Linked DNA regions of Homo sapiens. The protein of the gene in region 1 purifies or fractionates together with the protein of each later gene. This does not show direct contact. Each region holds a gene or a part of one and is shown in the gene's direction. Other genes may lie near its edges.

Region 1 (3,650 bases):
AGGTGGGGACACCAAGCTCATGAGAGATAGTGATTTCCCTGAGCTCACAGTGGGTCATTGGCTGAGCTGGAGCTTTGAGCCTGGCTGGGTGGCATGGGTAGCAGGATGCTCTGGTAGCAGGGGGTCCCTGAGGCAGCCAGGCCTAGAAAGCATCTTATACGGGTGCTCCGTGGCCACCAGGACCACCAGTGGAAGGCGCGGCGACTGCAGAAGATGGAGGCCTCGGCCAGGCTGGAGCTGCAGTCAGCGCTGGAGGCCGAGATCCGCGCCAAGCAGGGCCTGCAGGAGCGGCTGACACAGGTGCAGGAGGCCCAGCTGCAGGCTGAGCGGTGAGGCTAGGGGCAGGCACTGGGGGCCAGGGCCCGCACAGAGGCCAGTGGCGAGCCCTTGCCATTCTCCCCAGCCGTCTGCAGGAGGCCGAGAAGCAGAGCCAGGCCCTGCAACAGGAGCTCGCCATGCTGCGGGAGGAGCTGCGGGCCCGAGGGCCAGTGGGTGAGTGGCTGCCAACTGCTTGCCCCGGAGCCAGGCTCCCCCGCGGCCTCCCACTTGCCAAGGGGGCTCCACGATGGCCTGGCAGGGTGGTGGAGACAGGAGTCTGTTCCTGGACTCTGCCGCTTACTCCATCATCTGTGACCAGCACTTCTGGAGTGCCTGCTGTGCCCAGCCCTGCCCCACCCTGTGGTCATTTCCCATTTTACTGAGGTGGGAACTGAGGCCCCTCCTGGACCCTAGTTCCTCAGGCCAGGGACCCCAGGCCAGTGACCCACCCTTTCTTTGCAGACACCAAGCCCTCAAACTCCCTGATTCCCTTCCTGTCCTTCCGGAGCTCAGAGGTAAGGACCAGGCCAAGGGGCTTGTTGGGGAGAAGTTCTGGGAGAGGCACAGGGACCTTGACTTTGCTCCTCTCTCTCCCACCCCCAGAAGGATTCTGCCAAGGACCCTGGCATCTCAGGAGAGGCCACAAGGCATGGAGGAGAGCCAGATCTGAGGCCGGAGGGCCGACGCAGCCTGCGCATGGGGGTGAGGACAGGTGGGTCCATCGTAGGGGGCCTGGGCCCCGCCCTTGCCCGTCTCACCTGCTCCCCCGCCCTCCTGCAGGCTGTGTTCCCCAGAGCACCCACTGCCAACACAGCCTCTACAGAAGGTCTTCCTGCTAAGGTCAGTGCCCAGAGGGGCAAGCAGGGTGGGGGCACCAAGCAGTTCTGCCAGGCTGAATGGGCACTGTGGGGACACTCCACGTGCATCGTGGCTAGCAGGCACAATTGGGGTGGAGGTGGTGGCGATGAGCTTGCCTGCCGCCATAGATTGGCTGGGACTCGGAGGTCACTGTTGCCTGGCTCAGCCCCTTGTCTTTCCTGACCCCTCAGGGATGGGGCATGGGGCCCTGGGAGGCCTTGGGTAATGGCTGTCCCCCTCCCCAGCCCGGCTCACACACGCTGCGCCCCCGGAGCTTCCCATCCCCGACCAAGTGTCTCCGCTGCACCTCGCTGATGCTGGGCCTGGGCCGCCAGGGCCTGGGTTGTGATGGTGAGAGTCCCCACCCACTATGCTCCAGCCACGGTCCCAGGTGTGTGGCCCTGGCATACCCAGGCTGTTTCTCCCATCCCAGGGTCACTGGCACCTGCTGGTCAAATTTCCTCCTGCTCAGCTTTGTTCCTTTTCTCACTTGATGAGGAATTGGGGACAGTTCGGGTGCCACCGTGGCTTCAGGGAAGCTGGCTCTGGACATGCCCCCGTCCTGGTTTGGGGCTGTCCCCTCCCAGCCTCACCTCATCCACCTTCTCCACTTTCCCCACAGCCTGCGGCTACTTTTGTCACACAACCTGTGCCCCACAGGCCCCACCCTGCCCCGTGCCCCCTGACCTCCTCCGCACAGCCCTGGGAGTACACCCCGAAACAGGCACAGGCACTGCCTATGAGGGCTTTCTGTCGGTGAGTGGGGGCCGAGGGAGGGGAAGATGGGCATGGGGGGCTGAGGGTCCCTGCAGCCCTCCCATGCTTGCCTTTCCGCCAGGTGCCGCGGCCCTCAGGTGTCCGGCGGGGCTGGCAGCGCGTGTTTGCTGCCCTGAGTGACTCACGCCTGCTGCTGTTTGACGCCCCTGACCTGAGGCTCAGCCCGCCCAGTGGGGCCCTCCTGCAGGTCCTAGATCTGAGGTAGGTGCCGGGCAGTGGCATGGGGCAAGGGACTAGTGGTAAGGGGGGCAGTCAGGGACAGGGAGATTTCTGACCTGTTCTGTGAACCTCCCAGGGACCCCCAGTTCTCGGCTACCCCTGTCCTGGCCTCTGATGTTATCCATGCCCAATCCAGGGACCTGCCACGCATCTTTAGGGTGAGTGCCTGGGATGAGATGGAGCAGCCACCATCCACCTCCCCATGCTGTCCCAGCTCTGGCCACTGTCCCCCCACTTCATACTGCCCTCTTGGGCCAGCCCACAACCACAGCACGCTTTCCACGTGAGCACCTGGCCCGGTCTCACCTCGTTTAGGATCTGCTGTGGCTTCCCATCGTCTGCGGGGCTCGGGGTGCTCCTGACCTAGCCCTTGAGGCCCCAAGGCTCTGACCCTGCAGGCCTCCCAGCCCTCTCCCTTGGCACCTGTCTCTGCTCTGGTCACACCTTGCTCTCTCCAGTTCTGAAGGCGCCCTGTGCCTGTGTGCACCACATTCTCAGTCCTTCACATCTGTCTTTGCACGAAATTGCCGGCCCTGCACTGGAGCCCAGCCCCTCACCTACCTTGACTACTCCTGGTTAGTTACTCGTCCCTCAGGCTTCAGCAGAAATGTCTGGTCTCCTGGGAAGTCATCCTTCACTTCCCGGCCCCGGTTTGGGTCCCTCTGTGTTCCCACTAGGCCCGTCCTTGCCCCATTATGGCGCTGGTCGCATGGCTCTGGAGTTGTCTGTTTGCCTGTCTGGCCTACTCCCTGCTGCTGACAGTGCACGCTAGGCCCCCGGGGCACAGCGGCTGCTGGAGGCAGGAAGGGAGGGAGGACAGATGGCTCTGGTCCACGGCCCTCCAGCTGGGGTCCTTGCCCACAGGTGACAACCTCCCAGCTGGCAGTGCCGCCCACCACGTGCACTGTGCTGCTGCTGGCAGAGAGCGAGGGGGAGCGGGAACGCTGGCTGCAGGTGCTGGGTGAGCTGCAGCGGCTGCTGCTGGACGCGCGGCCAAGACCCCGGCCCGTGTACACACTCAAGGAGGCTTACGACAACGGGCTGCCGCTGCTGCCTCACACGCTCTGCGCTGCCATCCTCGGTGAGCTGGTGGAGGGGACTGGAGGAAGCAGTTCAGGCCTGCGGGAGTGCTGGTGTCTAGGAATAGTCCCAAGGGCCACTGCTACTGCCCATTCCCTGCAGCCACGAGACACAGACTGCCTTGCACCACGTATGTGCTCCAGCCTCCTGTGTGCATGGCTGGGCCCCCAGGTAGGGGGCCTGGCTTATCCCCACTCCATTTCGCTGTGCCTCAGTTTCTGCTTTTTCCAAAAGAATCTCAAGCAAGTGGAAGGAACAAAGGCTTTTTTTTTTTCTTTTTCTTTTTTTGAGACAGAGTCTCGCTCGGTCGCCCAGGCTGGAGCTCAGCAGTGCAATCTCAGCTCACTGCAACCTCCGCCTCCCAGATTCAAGCGATTCTCCTGTCTCAGCCTCCAGAG
Region 2 (3,368 bases), on another chromosome or scaffold:
ATCAGTCTATTTGATAATCAATAATAACTTAAATTTGCTTATGCTTATGCTGACCTCTTACGTTCTGTCCAGGACATATAAATGGAAAAAAAGTGGGAGCTAAAACCCCTGTTTGGAACACTTTTGATGTTATGTATCGTTATAATTATAACTCAGTTAACTAAAACTGGCAATACTCATCTTTCAGTGATTTCATTTCTTGATGTACTAGGAAAGTGATTAGGAGAGGTTTGTGATATTACACATTTTGTTTTGATAATTCACATTCAAAAAATCCTTAGTTTGATAAATATTTTTATGTCTTACAGAATATGATGCTTTGGCAAAAGTGATTCAGCACCATCCAGACAGGCATGAGACATTAAAGTAAGTGTAGAGCTTTACTTTGAAAGGAACTAACCTTTATACATAAATGCTCGAAAACTACCGTAGGCATTTCATTTTTGCAGAAATAAATATGTTTCAAAAGGAGGGGTCAGATATTCAATATTATATTTTCCCATACTTCTCTGTTAGATTTTATTTTCCTCTAACCTTACCAGCTATATGTCTAAAATAAATGCATATAATATGCATCAATATCACAATGGATAAATAGAATATGGTCTTCATATATTAAAATATTGAATTTCAGTTAAAAAGAATAAACTAGTTATGCCCTTTTAAAACACAGCTCTCAAAACATAATCAGTGAAAAGACACATAATAAACTTTAAATTATATTTAAATTCCTGAAACACATACAGAATAATAACCATTTATAAAAGTTAGAACCCCCTTTCAAATATTATATACCAATACTGTGTATTATTCAGGGATACAAGTATATGCATAAAAAAGAATAAGAATGATATAGTAGTTGCCTGAGTGGGAGGTAGAGGAGATAAAAAGGCCCAGGATAGAGGACTAGGCGTAAGATTCAAAGGGTATTTCGAGTTAATTGGCAATGTTTTATTTCTTTTACCAAAATAAAAAACCCTCGAAGTTAAACTTCACAATATGTATCATTTCTTGGGTCTTGTTATTCTGTTATCTGTATTTTTCTGTACTTTAAAAATGGATCCAAAAATGTAATTTTAATGAAAGTGAGTCCATATTTAGAAGTTAAGAAGAAATCATCCTCAGCTTTAAAAGTTTCACCATAATGGAGTGTTATAACTCCTTATAAGCCCTTTTTTTATTTTAAAAATCCTATCTAGTAACTTAAAAGTTAGGCATTAATTGTAAACTCTTCTCCCCCATTCAGCAAAATGTAACACTGTTTTATTATTTCCAGGGAACTAGAGGCTCTGGGAAAAGAATTAGAGCATCTTTCACACATTAAAGAAAGTGTTGAAGATAAGGTATTCGCATATATATTTAGCCTTCATGATCTGTCTATCTGTCTGTCTATATATCTATATATACAGGTCATTTGTATAAATTTTTTTCTTGTTAACACAGCTGGAATTGAGACGGAAACAGTTTCATGTTCTTCTTAGTACCATCCATGAACTTCAGCAAACATTGGAAAGTAAGTAGAAATAGTCTCAAAGTAAATGCTTATGAAGATTTTTTAAATGACCCAGGGATGTACCTTTTGAAATATACATCTTGGAGAGACAGTATACCTTCAATTTCTGAACAGTGTAGCTGGATGACGTTAGAAGGTACTCATGTTCAACTTTCTTGAATACATGTAGAAAAGTCTTAATTTGTAGTAATATAGGATTTAAACATATACATAGTGGTTTAAATTAAGAAAAATTCAAGGATGATAGATTTGGAATCTTTCTTGGTTCACTGTAGTTGACTACTATAATATAACAACTCAGGACCCAGGCAGGCAATAATAAGAAATCAGTACATACGAACATTTGCATACCCACTGAGTAGTGGGTGCTTTGGGGAACTGGAGACTTGCTCTTTATATTCACTATAGGCAAGTGGAAATTTTTGTGTTACCTGATCTTCTGATTGTTTTAAAGAATAGCCTAAGACCCATTTTTTCTTTTCTTTTTTTTTTTTTTAAGACAGTCTTGCTCTGTCACCCAGGCTGGAGTGCAGTGGCACAATCTTGGCTCACTGCAATCCTCACCTTGCAGGCTCAAGTGATTCTCCTGCCTCAGCCTCCCTAGTAGCTGGAATTACAGGTGCATGCCACCACACCCAGCTAATTTTAGTATTTTTAGTAGAGACGGGGTTTTACCATGTAGGCCAGGCTGGTCTTGAATTCCTGACCTCAGGTGATCCACCTGCCTTGGCCTCCCAAAGTGCTGGGATTATAGGCATGAGCCACCAGACCCTGCCTGGATTTTTTTTTTTTTAAGTGAAGTCTATCACATAAATTTTAAAGTTTGATTCAACTAGTAGCCATCTTAGCTTTAATTGTATTGGCTAATAAAGGATAAACATGTTTTCATGTGTTCATCGAATATAAAATATAGGCAAACTTGACTAAGGTTTTATGTTTCCTTCTCAATTACAGATGATGAAAAACTCTCAGAGGTAGAAGAAGCTCAGGAAGCAAGCATGGAAACAGATCCTAAGCCATAGACAGGCTAATTGCCCACCACTCCCAGGAATATTGAAATAGCTACATGACCATAATGTGTTTAAAATGTGGTATGCTCTTGAGATATTTAAAGTTTTGGCAGTAAAATACTCTGTTTTTAAGTATGAATGTATTTCATTCATATTTCCTCTCACAAAGGAAAATGACTTCAGTATAGATTTGTTTTTATTAAAATGCATTTTTTATTCTTAAGTGGTAGGAAGCAACATCCAAAAATGCTTAATAAAATGCTTTTAAGCTGCATATGTTTGTGCTCATTAATATTCTAGGTAGTTTTTAACTGGTAACATTGATTGGCTTACAAAATAAGTTGAAAATTGTTAGAAGTTGGCATTTCTAGGATGTACATGGGAAAATGAGCCAATTTCTGGAAATGGTTACACTTCTGAAAACGGAGTCTATGAAGAGGCTTTAGGAGGACCATGAACCTGTGAAATTACATGCAAAATGTTAGTGGTGTATGCTTATTGTGGAGAGAGGTTCCAGGCTGTTAAAATTCGCTGGTATGGGACGTTAATTATAAGATGCAAAGTAAAATAGTGCACATTACTTTATATATCTCTCCTTAATATGAGAGGAATATGGTTCTCAAATGTTTTGTTGATCTGTTTTCTCTACTGTTTTGTTCTTTAGGAATCATTTTCAATAGAAAAAGATGTATTGATAAAGTGAAGAGTGTTTGAAGTAAATAGTTTGTTAAGATTGTTTTGCGTAGGCCAGGCATGGTGGCTCACACCTTTAATCCCAGCACTTTGGAAGGCCGAGGCGGGCAGATCACCTGAGGTCAGGAGTTCGAGACCAGCCTGACCAACAT

Evidence for each region.
Region 2: the proteins of CDC42BPG (region 1) and THOC7 fractionate together in Homo sapiens (co-fractionation; one large-scale study listed by BioGRID). This does not show direct contact.

What each region holds. Positions count from the first base shown.
Region 1 is NC_000011.10:64,831,108-64,834,757, reverse strand, and holds part of CDC42BPG (serine/threonine-protein kinase MRCK gamma), read left to right. Parts: intron 1-180; coding exon 181-329; intron 330-403; coding exon 404-492; intron 493-780; coding exon 781-833; intron 834-921; coding exon 922-1,020; intron 1,021-1,098; coding exon 1,099-1,158; intron 1,159-1,367; coding exon of another isoform or gene 1,368-1,421; coding exon 1,422-1,527; intron 1,528-1,798; coding exon 1,799-1,932; intron 1,933-2,014; coding exon 2,015-2,154; intron 2,155-2,248; coding exon 2,249-2,330; intron 2,331-2,630; exon of another isoform or gene 2,631-2,747; intron 2,748-3,036; coding exon 3,037-3,253; intron 3,254-3,650. UniProt on the Homo sapiens protein: May act as a downstream effector of CDC42 in cytoskeletal reorganization. Contributes to the actomyosin contractility required for cell invasion, through the regulation of MYPT1 and thus MLC2 phosphorylation.
Region 2 is NC_000003.12:63,833,299-63,836,666, reverse strand, and holds the end of THOC7 (THO complex subunit 7), read left to right. Parts: intron 1-308; coding exon 309-366; intron 367-1,276; coding exon 1,277-1,343; intron 1,344-1,443; coding exon 1,444-1,513; intron 1,514-2,467; coding exon 2,468-2,535; 3' UTR 2,536-2,797; downstream 2,798-3,368. UniProt on the Homo sapiens protein: Component of the THO subcomplex of the TREX complex which is thought to couple mRNA transcription, processing and nuclear export, and which specifically associates with spliced mRNA and not with unspliced pre-mRNA.